Linked DNA regions of Homo sapiens: all the other regions are linked to region 1. Evidence: fine-mapped expression QTL. A gene starts in region 1. Each other region holds a variant in brackets. All regions are shown on one strand. Distances are from middle to middle.

Region 1 (4,135 bases):
TATTATTCCTCTTTTTTCTGTACCAGCAAACCTTCTCTCCCTTCCATCCGCTTTAGGCTGCTCAAGAATCTCTCATCTTAAAACATCTCAATACTACATCACCCTTGTAGCTCCCTGGAGCTAAGGGTGCCGAATTTGTTGGCCTGAAGTTGTTCATATTCTCTTCCACAGACAAACATTTTGAGTTATCTCCACTTGCCATCTCTACCTCATCATCTCTTCATCCCTCTACGGTAATATGTAGCTTCCACCTCATTACTCCAATGAAGCTATTCTTGGTGAGGTCACCAATGATCCCTTGTGAATAAATCCAACACATATCTTCCATTTCTTTTTCTACTTGACTTTTAAGTGGCATTCGACACTCTTAGCTGCACTCTCTGCCCCGAACATCCTCGTTCCTTGGCTCTGTTACGACACTCTCTTGGTTTTCTTCCTCCTTCACTGACTGCTCTTTCTCCACAAACTGTCTATTCTCTGAAGATTCTAACCTCTTTATGTCTAGTACACCATCTCTGTTGGTCCTCTCTTCAGCTCCTAGAGCCAACTGCCACCTCTATGCTGAGGATGCCCAGATATCTGTCTCTAGCAGGGATTCTTTCCTGAGCTCTCTATCCTTCTATTCCACAGTCGACCAGACAAACGCACTGGCTGGAAAAGCCATGACTTGCGTTGAATTGCAGTTGTATCACTTGTTGGCCCTGGCCGAATAATGGCATTGTTGAGCATATTTTCTCATCCCAAAATAAAGGGGGTTAATTATACTGTGCTTTCTTCACAAAGATGTTTTCACTACAATGAACTATTACAGAAAAGGGTGTTGTAAGCAATAAATCAGTGCCTAAACTAAGCTATTGCTACTGTTATTTTTGTTATATATATTTTTAAAGATGTCATTTGGCTTCATGCAATACTTCATTCCATAACATAGATAAGTGTTCCAACGAGCTGAGGCTATTATCTTTTAATGATAAAGATAACAGATGTTAGCTTCTGGGACGGCTAAGAGGCTGATGTGAGCTTTAGAATCCATTTTTGAGTTGGAGAACAAATAACTCTGTTGAAGGGGTTGCAACCTTAAATGACTATAGGAACCAGGCAGGTAACATACATGAGCCCATCTGGTCAGGCAAATGACTGTGTCTTACCTCAAGGGACCACTCTAGGTAATTGGTAACACACATCATTTTGGGTCCAATATTGACAGGTTTGATTTTTCCACAGAAGCTGGAAAACTAGGTTTTTAACATTTAGGCCTTTCAATTATTATTATTATTATTATTTATTTTTTGAGGCGGAGTCTCAGGCTAGGGTACAGTGGCGCCCGCCTCCCGGGTTCAAGCGATTCTCCTGCCTCAGCCTCCCGAGTAGCTGGGATTACAGGCACCCGCCACCACGCTCGGCTAATTTTTGTATTTTTAGTAGAGACGGGGTTTCACCATGTTGACCAGGCTGGTCTGGAACTCCTGACCTCAGGTGATCCGCCTGCCTCGGCCTCCCAAAGCACTGGGATTACAGGTGTAAGCCACCGCGCCTGGCATCAGTCTTTAAATGATAGCAACTAATTCACCTCCTGCTACCCACTCCCAACCCCCAAATACTGTGTGGGCCAAAAACTAAAAATGCATTGTCTGTGAGCCATTTCCTTATTATCCTATAAGGAAAGTCACCATTTCATCTCCAAATAGTTGGGCATTACGAACCCTTCCAAGTGGTTCATGAGGATTTGCTTTTGCCTTGGAAAATGTCAGGGTGAGAACGAACCTTGAGGGTCACAGGGCAGTCTCTGCAGTGTTGTGGTTGCCCAGGACGAAGGTTTTTCTAGCCCACGGCTCCCACTACTGGTCACTGCCCCAGGCCAGACCCTGGCCCTCTCCTCGGAAGACAGAGCAATGCAGCAGCGTTTCCCCTGCAAACTGCCTGCCTGGCTGCTGGGAGGGGGCTGCCAACCTTACTCACTAAGCGTCACAGGAAACTCCGACCTCCATGAGACGAAAACCAAGTATTTACTGAAAGCTTAACGCACGCTAACTCCTTGCTCCTTAGCCAACTGAGAGAAAAATTCGCGAACCCATTCGCAAACGCGGCGCTAACAGCAAACGGGAGGCTGACTCCACCCAGAGGATGGCGAAGCGCTTAAACCGGAGACACCTGAGAAGGAGCCTCCCACAAAACAGACCATGTGGGGAACGGTACCGGGAGCTGGACTGGGGCGCTGAACTACCTGGGCGGGAATCGCCTCGGCGACTGTTCCGCGCGCCTCCGCTTGAGTCAGCCCGGCCGGGAGCTTGACAGCCGGAAGTTCATCGCAAGCCCGGCGACGCCGCGCACGCGCTGTCTCCGTCAGACCTCCGCGCCTGCGCGCGCAGCCAGGAAGTGAGGCCGCGGCGGAGGGGACGGGGCTAGGCCGGGTCGCCGCCTGACGCGACGCGTCCTCACGGGCGCCTACGTCACGGCGTCGAGGCGGAAGATGGTGCACCTCCGGGCCGGCGGTTGCTGAGCTGACCCGGACGGCGAGGGAGCGGGAGCCCGAGCCCGACCACTCCGGCTGCCGCGGGGTGCGGCGCAGCCACCGCCATGTCGCTGCTGCAGTCGGCGCTCGACTTCTTGGCGGGTCCAGGCTCCCTGGGCGGTGCTTCCGGCCGCGACCAGAGTGACTTCGTGGGGCAGACGGTGGAACTGGGCGAGCTGCGGCTGCGGGTGCGGCGGGTCCTGGCCGAAGGTGAGGCCCCGGGTCGGCAGCGCGGGTGCGGCCGCGGAGTGTTGTCTCCGGGACGCTGGGGGCAGCGTCAGCCCGGAGTGGAAGGGCGTGGGTTAGGGCTGGGGAGGGTCCCAGCGGGATCGTGGGTCAGGGTCGGCCAGGGGAGGGTCTCTGCCGAGGGCGTGGGTCAGGGCCAGGCGAAGGTCATAGCGCGGGCGTAGGTGAGTGCCTGCTGGCGGTGATTGCGGAGGGCGAGGCTGGGACCGGGTCGGGGTACTTTCTTGTCATAAGAGTAGGGTCAAGTCGGAGCAAGGCCTGGGGCTTGGGGAACCCCCTCAGGGTGGGTGGGGGAAGATGTTACGGTGAGGTGGGGGATGGTGGCAGGCAGGGAGCTTGGGTGGGGACCCACAGCGGAGACTGAGGGACGGTGCCTAGAAGGCCGACAGCTGGAGTCAGGAGGTGAGCGGTGCAGGAGGTGGGTTTAAGCCTTGGCCTTTTGCCGGACATCTGGGGTTATTGAGCAGGCAGGGACAGGACTGGACTTTGGAGGTTAGGGCTGGTTCTTCTACAGTCCAGGGAACTTGAGAGTTGGTGGGTGCACACGTGTTGCAGGTAGTTGCGGTTGTAGCCTGGGGGGTGGGGGGGTTGGCCGAGGGTAGACTGGGCTGTGTCTCGTGATCCCCCTTCGTCTTTCAACACCTCAGTGTTTCTCTTCCCGGTGAACATCTACTCGTGTGATTCCGTGTGTAGTACAGGAAGCAGAGCCAGTGGTTGTGACCTATATAGAACTTGCAGAGTGGACAGGTCACTCGGCTTAAGTCCTCTTGAGTCAGTCTTGAGTCAGTTTTGTCTCTGCATGCTATTTCTAGCTCCCTGGATGTCCTCTCCGTTCACACGGAATCGATCACCAGTGCCAGTGGGTCCCATTCTCTCTTGTGGATTTTCCTTACATTTTTTGTCCAGTGGTGCCTGGAGGTGTGTCATATTTCACTGGCTGTGAAGTTTATGGGCTAAACACAGTTGACTTGGGTGCGGAAGCGTAACTCTATTCTGCTGTATTGGCACAGGGAGAGGGAGTGAAGCGACACAAAAGCCCTCACCCTCACCAGCTCCCTGGTACCTCTCAGGGCTGGAGGGTTAGCCTGTCCAGGTGCCTGCTCTGTGACCAGACAGGAGACTATCCCAGAATTCTGATTATCACAAAAGGCCTGCGGAGACATTTTGACTGTAGCATTATCACACACTTTGTCTCCATTGTGGTCAAAACCAAACAGATTTTGGGTATGATTTGGTCAGAAAGTCTAAGCTCTTCTTTCAGAAGTGGGGGCTGAAGTGTGATATTCTTTCACATCAGTTGGAAGATTTCTCTCAGATCAAATCATTTATTCTGAAAATACTAGGTGGTTATCTTCATTCTTTAAGAAGTTTATTGTG
Region 2 (4,135 bases), 79 kb after region 1:
GGTGGTGAGCAGGTGTGGTGAGCAGCTGTGGTGAGCAGGTGTGGTCCCAGCTACTCAGCAAGCTGAGGTGGGAAGATCACTTGGATCGCTTGAGCCCAGGAGGTCAAGGCTGGCCTGAGCTATTATTGCATCACTGCACTCCAGTCTGGGCAGCAGAGCAAGACCCTGTCTCCAGAAACCTGCAGCCAACATCTTTTTTTTGTTTGTTTGTTTTGAGACAAGAGTCTTGCTCTGTTGCCCTGGCTGGAGTGCAGTGGCATAATCTTGGCTCACTGCAACCTCCACCTCCCAGTTTCAAGCAATTCTCCCGCCTCAGCCTCCTGAGTAGCTGGGATTACAGGCATGCACCACCATGCCCAGCTAATTTTTGTATTTTTAGTAGAGACATGGTTTCACCATGTTGGCCAGGCTGGTCTCAAACTCCTGATCTCAAGTGACCTCCCAAAGTGCTGGGATTACAGGTATGAGCCACCCTGCCTGGCCAAGCCAATATCATTTTTAACCATCCTCCTAAAATCAGGAACAGGGCAGGAGTGTCTTTTCTCCACTTGTACTTGTCGGAAGTCCCAGCTGCTGCCATTTGGCAAGAAAAGGAGATCAAAGTTACACGCACTACAAAGGGAGAAATAAAATTACTCCTGTCTGCAGATGACACGATTGTCTGCGCAGGGACTCTGAAGCAATCTACAAAGATCTTTTAGAACTATGAGTTCAGTAAGGTCGCAGGATACCAGGTCAACACACAAAAATCTGTCCTATTTCTGTTTACTTGCAATTATATAAGGAAGCCAACATTTAAAACAGTACCATTTACAATCACCTTTTTTTTTTTTAGAAAAAATAAACATTTAGGTATAAATCTGACCAGACATGTCTAGGGCTTGTGTGGTGGGACTACAAAACCAACCGTGGCGAAAGAGACCAGAGGAGATGCGAGTGAAGGGACGGACGCTGCACTCACGGCCTGGAGGCTCCCGAGTAAGGTGGCCGTTCTCCTGTGTGCATCTGTAGCCTAACGCAGTTCCTACCAACGCCTCAGCAGGGATTTTCCTAGATACAAATGAGCTTACTGTACAGTGTATTTGAAAGACAGATGGACTAGATGCCTGGAATAGTTTATTTTTTTGAGATGGAGCCTCGCTCTGTCGCCCAGGCTGGAGTGCAGTGGCCTGATCTCGGCTCACTGCAAGTTCCCTTACCGGGTTCACGCCATTCTCCTGCCTCAGCCTCCTGAGTAGCTGGGACTACAGGCACCCGCCACCACGCCCAGCTAATTTTTTGTATTTTTAGTAGAGATGGGGTTTCACCGTGTTAGTCAGGATGGTCTTGATCTCCTGACCTCGTGATCCGCCCGCCTCGGCCTCCCAAAGTGCTGGGATTACAGGCGTGAGCCACCGCACCCAGCCATGCCTGGAATATTTTTGTAATGGAAAAATGAAATGGGAGAAGTCACTGTTCCTGGCTTTGAGGCTTACTCTGAAGCCACAAATCAACATTGCGGCGATGGCAGACAGACGCGTCTGTGGAGAGAAGAGAGGACTCAGGCCACACAAGAGAGACCAGCGGAGCTTTGACAGAGGCAGAAAACCCGTTCATCAGATGGTCTGGAGCACCTGGGCAGCGGTAGGCAAAGCCCTAAGCCCTCGTTCTACAGAACAGCTCATCAGAATGCAGGGCCTTTAGGTGAAAACCTTTGTGGCCTGGGGCTGGGCAGAGTTCGTAGACTCGCCACCCAAACCACACCCATAAGAGGACAGGTGGACCCAACTTCAGAGCTCTGAGCATCTGAGCTGC[G/A]GACTGGGAGAAGATATTTCCAAACCACCTATTTGACAAAGGACTCATCTACAGAATATAAAAATACAGTCAAAAACAAACTGAAAGCAATCCAGTTAGAAAATGGGCGAGAGCGCAGGGTCCTCTGCCTACGAAAACCAGAGACCTTTGTTCACTTGTTTATCTGCTGACCTTCCCTCCACTATTGTCCTGTGACCCTGCCAAATCCCCCTCTGCGAGAAACACCCAAGAATGATCAATTAAAAAAAAAAAAAAAAGAAAGAAAATGGGCGAGAGACGGCCGGGCATGGTGGCTCATGCCTGTAATCCCAGCACTTTGGGAGGCTGAGGCAGGCGGATCACCTGAGGTCGGGAGTTCGCGACCAGCCTGACCAACATGGAGAAACCCTGTCTCTACTAAAAATACAAAAATTAGCTGGACGTGGTGGCACAGGCCTGTAATCCCAGCTACTCGGGAGGTTGAGGCAGGAGAATCGCTGGAACCCGGGAGGCGGAGGTTGCGTCAGCCGAGATCTTGCCACTGCACTCCAGCCTGGGCGACAGAGCAAGACTCTGTCTCAAAAAAAAAAAAAGAAAATGGGCAAGAGACATGAAGAGACCTCCAGCACATTGACATCCGATGGCCAGGAAGCACAGGCTGAGACACCCAGCATCACCGAATGCTGGCGCGGAGGAGGCCGGAGCGCGGAGGAGGCCCGAACACGGAGGAGGCTGGAGCGTGTGTCTCACGCATTGCCCGGGGGGCGAGCCGCGTGCCTCATGCCTTGCCGGGGGGACTTGCCGGGGGACGAGCCGCGTGCCTCACGCCTTGCCGGGGGGACGAGCCGCGTGTCTCGCGCATTGCCCCGGGGGCGAGCTGTGTCTCATGCATTGCCAGGGTTGAGCCGTGTCTCTCAGGCATTCCCAGGGAGTGACAAGTGGCAGGGCCGCTCTGGAGAACAGGTGGTCGGTTTCCTACGAAGCTAAACACACAGCTACTGAGCTACCGTGGGACATTTATCCCAGAGAAACGGAAACTCTCATTCACACACAAGTCCGTAACAGGCGTTCAGAGACGTGTCTGTTGTAGCCAAACAGTGGCATCAACCCAGGTGTCCTACAGGTGAACGGTTCAATAGGTGGTCTGCACACCACGAGATGGCCCTTGGCAGGGAGGGGGAGTGGCGGATGCCCCGAGCCCTAGTGAAGAGTGCCAGTCCAGAGGCTGCAGCTGTTGGTCCCCTTCTAGAACATAACTAAGATGACAGTCTGGGCATGGTGGCTCACACCTACCATCCCAGCCCTGTGGGAGGTGAGGCCAGCGGGTCTCTTAAGCCTAGGAGTTTGAGACCAGCCATAGTGAGACCATCTCCAAAAAAAAAAAAAGATGACAGAACTGTAGTGAAGCATTCAGGTCGTGATTGCTGTGGTGCTGAGAGGAATCCGTGGTGCGGTCAGTGGCGCGGCCCCGCACTCACACACACGAGTCCAGCTGGCCACGTCTGGTGCATCTGTAGGTGGCGCGGCTGCCCGGGCTCAGTGCTTCTCTGAGGTTATGAGAGACGCCCTCCCTGGGGGATGCTGGGCGCAGGTGCTCAGGGTATTTACAGCTTCCTGCTATTCTGATTATTCCAAAATAAAAAGTTAAAGGATCGGGCCAGGCACGGTGGCTCACGCCTGTAATCCCAGCACTTTGGGAGGCCGAGGTGGGCAGATCACGAGGTCAGGAGATGGAGACCATCCTGGCTAACATGGTGAAATCCCACCTCTACTAAAAAATACAAAAAAAATTAACCGTGCGTGGTGGTGGGCGCCTGTAGTCCCAGCTACTTGGGAGGCTGAGGCAGGAGAATGGTGAGAATCCGGGAGGTGGAGCTTGAAGTGAGCTGAGATCACACCACTGCACTCCAGCCTGGGTGACAGAGCGAGATTCCGTCTCAAAAAAAAAAAGTTACGGGATCAGCCCTGATTTGATGTGCTGCGAGAGGCAGTGGCCACGTGACAGATGGTGGTGGCCCTCTAGGACGCTACAGACGTGGGGACACTGCCCCAACCCCCGTGGACAAGCCCCGGGTCTGCCTTGGCTCCTGGGGGTGACGTGGGGACACTGCCCCAACCCCCGTGGACAAGCCCTGGGTCTGCCTTGGCTCCTGGGGGTGGGGTGCTGCCTCCACAGCTGCCCTGTCCTGGTGTCTGCCCTCCATCCAGAGTGTTCCCGTCGCCCCAGCACCTGGCCTGTGCTCCAGCCCCTGGAGACCTTCACACGTGTGGGTGGAGCCGGCACCTCTGGACGGCCTCGAGTGATCGGTGTTCTATTTTGCAAGCGCATGTTTTCCAATATACGTGGTGCTCTGCGTTATAG
Region 3 (4,135 bases), 42 kb after region 1:
CCTCCTTGAGGTTTGCAGGCGCCTTTCTAGATTCTTCCCCTGACAGGACAGCATGAATTGCTCCTGTGTCTTTGTTTCTGGGGTCTGGTGTCCAAGCCAGGTCAGCCAGCCCTCAGCTCTGGGCGTCCTGGGGTGTCCTGAGTTGCTCTGCGTCTGTGTTTCTGACCCTCAGCTCAGCTCTGGGCGTCCTGGTTGCAGTTGTGTCAGGGCTGGGCCTGGCCAGGGTCCACTCCCAGGCACCGGTGGCTGCTGGCAGCATCAGGGCCTGGGGGCTGGGAGACTGAGGCCCACAGGGCCGTGTGCTTTGTGGAAGTGTGAGGCCTGGGAGGGAGCAGCACGTGTTGGCTGGAAGATGCTTTCCTCAGAGTCTTTTCTGACCCAGCCGTGGACAGGGTGCAGCATCTCCATCACCAGATCCTCGAGGCAGAGCAGACACGCGGCCCGGCCCTCACCCACGGGGAGCAGGGAGGCCCCTGGGCATCCCAGCTCAGGGCCCAGTCAGGACACGCAGGGCCCCTCTGCAGATCTCGCAGGGGTCTGTGTCCAAGGACCCAGGACTCTTGGCTCCTGCATTTTGTCCCCTTTTCAGCCCTTGGGTCGTTTCCACTCCCTGGTAGCTGGAAGCCGGAACTTCCAGGGGCCACTGCAGTGGAGCTGACCCAGGCGGTGGGTGTGGAGCGTGGGGAGAAGGTCAGAGCTGCTGCCCGGAGTCCCTGTCTGAGGACAGGACCCTGTGGGACAAGGAAGGTTTGGGCTGTGTGGAGGGTTTGCAGTTCCTTGGGGGCCGCGTGGGTACAGAGACCTGGGAGCAGGGAAGTGCTGGGAAGCCCAGTGCAGACGGGGAGAGGCTGTGGTGCCCCTCTCTGGCGGCCATCATGGTGGGTGCACCAGCAGAGGGAGCCCTGGTGCTGGGTGCTGGAAGCATTTTGAGGTGTGGGGCGCTCTGAGGCGGGAGAGTTGATGTCACTGGTGGCCTCTCAGCAAGCTTCCCTGGGGCTGTCAGAGAGCGGCAGGAAGGGATCACTCCTGGGCCGTCCTGCTCTTTAGCAGCCTGGGCCTCGTGTCCCCCTCGCTTGGTGGCTCTTTACAGAAAATGCCTGCCCACTCCCCCGGAGGTCACAGAGGACAGTGGGCTCGCAGGGGGGTGTGGGCCTCTTGCTTTGTCGAGTGCGCTGGAGGGATTCTTGATGGGGCGGGAGGAGGTGCCGCTGGGCAGATGGGCAGAATCAGGCCCCTAGTGATGGGGCGGGGTCCTCAGTGCTTCTCATCTGAGTGCTTCTAGGCCGGGACCCCGTGGGGACAGACGTTAGACCCCTGCTTAAGCCAACCGACTCCCCCAGAAAACACAGTCCATGATGGAGCTGAGTTCACAATGAAATAAAATACTGCCCCCAGGAGGTAGTGAGCCTCACAGGGTGGCCCCCAGAACCCAGGAGCTGAAGTGATGGAACATCCTGGGACAGACAGGCCATGTGTCTGCTTAATATGGTTGGGCATGCGAGGTGGAGGCTGCAGTGAGCCCAGATCATGCCACTGCACTCCAGCCTGGGAGACAGAGTGAGACTCCGTTTCAAAAAAAAAAAAAAGAAAAAAAGCCTGGGTGCAGTGGCTCACGCCTGTAATCCTAGCACTTTGGGAAGCCGAGGCAGGCGAATTGCCTCAGCTCAGGAGTTCAAGACCAGCCTGGGCAACGTGGTGAAACCCCATCTCTACTAAAATACAAAACAAATTAGCCAGGCGTGGTGGCGCATGCCTGTAGTCCCAGCTACTCTGGGAGGCTGAGGCAGGAGAATTGCTTGAACTCATGAGGCGGAGGTTGCGGTGAGCTGAGATCGTGCCACAGCCCTCCAGCACTGCAGCCTGGGTCACAGAGCAAGACTCTGTCTCTACCAAAAAAAAAAAAAAAAATGTTGGTTGGACAGACTGGGAAGAGAGAGAAAAGGAAAAGGAACAGAAGCTGTAGCCCAAGAGTCTGAAAAGCTGGGCTGGAGTGCTGAGCACCTGCAACAGCCCCAAGCGAGGCAGGCCGCGGGGTGAGGGGATGAGGGCTGCGTGCGTTTGTTGAGTTCCAGCTGATGCTTCAGCCTGTGGGAAGTTCCTCCCTTGCACTGTGTCATAGATCAGGGGGCAGAAGGATGGGCTCTGAGGGCACCCATACCGTACCTCTGCCCGACGTGGGCAGGCGTGAGTTGTCAGTTTAGAGAACTGACCTCTGCATTTTCATTGTCACAGCTCCTGGAGCAGAATGGAGGCTACGGGAGCGCCACACTGTCCCGAGGGCCACCCCCTCCCGTGGGCCCCGCTGGCAGTGGCTACAGTGGAGGTGAGTGCCCTGTCCTGTGCCCGCCACCTGTCCCTCGCTCCTGCTGCACCCCGGGCACCCGCAGCACATTGGGATGGAGTCTGGGGTCCTTCTCTCCCGGGGCCTCCTCTCCCACCAGAGATGACTGTGAGGTCAGGGTCCCTGAGCACACCCTCAGGTTC[G/A]GCAGTTCCCTGGGGCTCACAGAGCTCAGCAAAGCTGGTGTCTTGGTGCAGTTCAGGAGGGGGTCAGGATTCGGACTAAAGCCAGCCAAGGGAAGAGGCTCCAGGGCAGGGCCCAGGAGACCGGGCCCGAGTGACCAGGCGGCCTCGCTCAGGGGTTATGTGGGAGGCAGCCTGCGCCGTGGCCAAGACCCCAGCATAGATCACATTGTCGTGTCTGGCACAGCCCAAGGCCCCAGGGAAACAGACACCCCTTTTGGGGCTGGAGGGGGCATCCCAGGTTCCTTCCCAGGAGCTGGGAATGAAGGGCCAGGCCTGCTGTGGGCAAGGTGAACCATTTACTACAGTAGCGACCCTGAGGCCAGGGGGCAGGAGCAGGCATTGGACAGTGGAGGGCGGTGGGGGAAGACAGTTCTGCCGCTAGTGTGAGGTGGCCCCTTCTGCCGCATGAGGAGTGGGCACCTGTGATGGGCCTGGGTGTCCCTGGAGGGCCCTCAGCTGGTGAGGAGTGGAGAGGGCCCTGGAGACAGACGCTGCATGCTCTTGGAACTCCGTGCCGGGAGTGTTCCAGAAGGTTCCGGGTGAGCCGTCGAGGACATGGCCCTGACAGGCAGCGGCTGGGTCTGCAGCTCTGCATGGCGCTGACCCCTCCCGACCTCGCCCCGCATCCCCACTGCGGTGTGGGAGGTTTCACCTGGGTCCTTCACCTCCGCTTCCCAGGGAGGAGCTCAGCTCCATGTCTGGGGCACCCCGGTCCGTGCAGTGTGGGTCCCACACATGCAGGTGTAGTGGCTGGCTGGGTCTCTGCTGGCTGGAGGAAGGGTGAGTCCTCGAGCTGCTGGGTTCTGCAGTGCCCCCATCTGCTCGGTGCTGCCTGGGCCTCGGTCTCCTGTCTGCATGAGGGACTTTGGCCAGGTGTTTTTTTTTTAACACCACTTGTGCCACCAAAGCCGCCTGTGAAGACCTCACTCGCAGGACCCACCAGGCCAGGGGCCACCACTCTGCCTTCACGTCCAGGGTCATGGTGGCCTGAAGCTGTGGCCGTGAGGCCGGACTATCCCCACAGACAGAGTCCCAGCCCCAGCTGTGCTGAGGCGGCCACATAGCCCTTCCGCACCCAGATTGACCATTTCCTGGGTCTCTGGAAAGGCTGAGGACAGGGTAGACCTGCCAGTGCTGAGGCCTGGCTTCCCGCTGGGTACGTGTGGGTCAGGGGCCTGGCCATACCACCCACTCCCTGCTCCTGCTGCCTGGGCCCAGCCAGCAACCTGCACCTGGGGAGGTGGGACCGAGCGCCTGGGGAGGTGGGACCGAGCGCCTGGGGCCTGGGCCCAGCCAGCAACCCGCACCTGGGGAGGTGGGACCGAGCACCTGGGGCCTGCTGAGACTGTGTCTCCCTGCAGGCCTGGCGCTGGCGGAGTACGACCAGCCGTATGGCGGCTTCCTGGACATTCTGCGGGGTGGGACAGAGCGGCTCTTCACCAACCTCAAGGACACCTCCTCCAAGGTCATCCAGTCCGTCGCTAAGTGAGTGTGAGGCTCCAGAGCCCTGGACCTGCCGCACGCTCGTTCCAGGCTGCAGCCCCGGCCCTTGCTTCCTGGCTGCGGTGGAACAGCTGGTCATCAGGCCCCACAGGGGCCCCTGAGGCAGTGG

What was found. PIP is the estimated chance that this variant, and not a neighbour inherited with it, causes the effect.
Region 2: its variant is the best candidate, but not a certain one, in a credible set for the expression of GAK in whole blood (INTERVAL, PIP 0.88).
Region 3: its variant is the best candidate, but not a certain one, in a credible set for the expression of GAK in whole blood (TOPMed, PIP 0.57).

Annotation. Positions count from the first base shown.
Region 1 is chr4:930,630-934,764 of GRCh38, reverse strand. GAK (cyclin G associated kinase) reads left to right here and starts at 2,449. Exons shown (of 28, transcript NM_005255.4): 1 at 2,449-2,722. The coding sequence starts at 2,578. It overlaps TMEM175 (transmembrane protein 175), which reads right to left and starts at 2,305. Exons shown (of 11, transcript NM_032326.4): 1 at 2,225-2,305. RefSeq lists an enhancer at 1,864-2,183 and a silencer at 2,344-2,663.
Region 2 is chr4:852,035-856,169 of GRCh38, reverse strand. The region is part of intron 24 of GAK (cyclin G associated kinase); the gene reads left to right. Among named protein-coding and RNA genes, the nearest start is that of CPLX1, 28 kb to the right of the region's middle. The variant G/A (reference allele first, on the strand shown) is at 1,795.
Region 3 is chr4:888,720-892,854 of GRCh38, reverse strand. It overlaps GAK (cyclin G associated kinase), which reads left to right. Exons shown (of 28, transcript NM_005255.4): 10 at 2,233-2,323; 11 at 3,885-4,008. Among named protein-coding and RNA genes, the nearest start is that of GAK, 42 kb to the left of the region's middle. The variant G/A (reference allele first, on the strand shown) is at 2,485.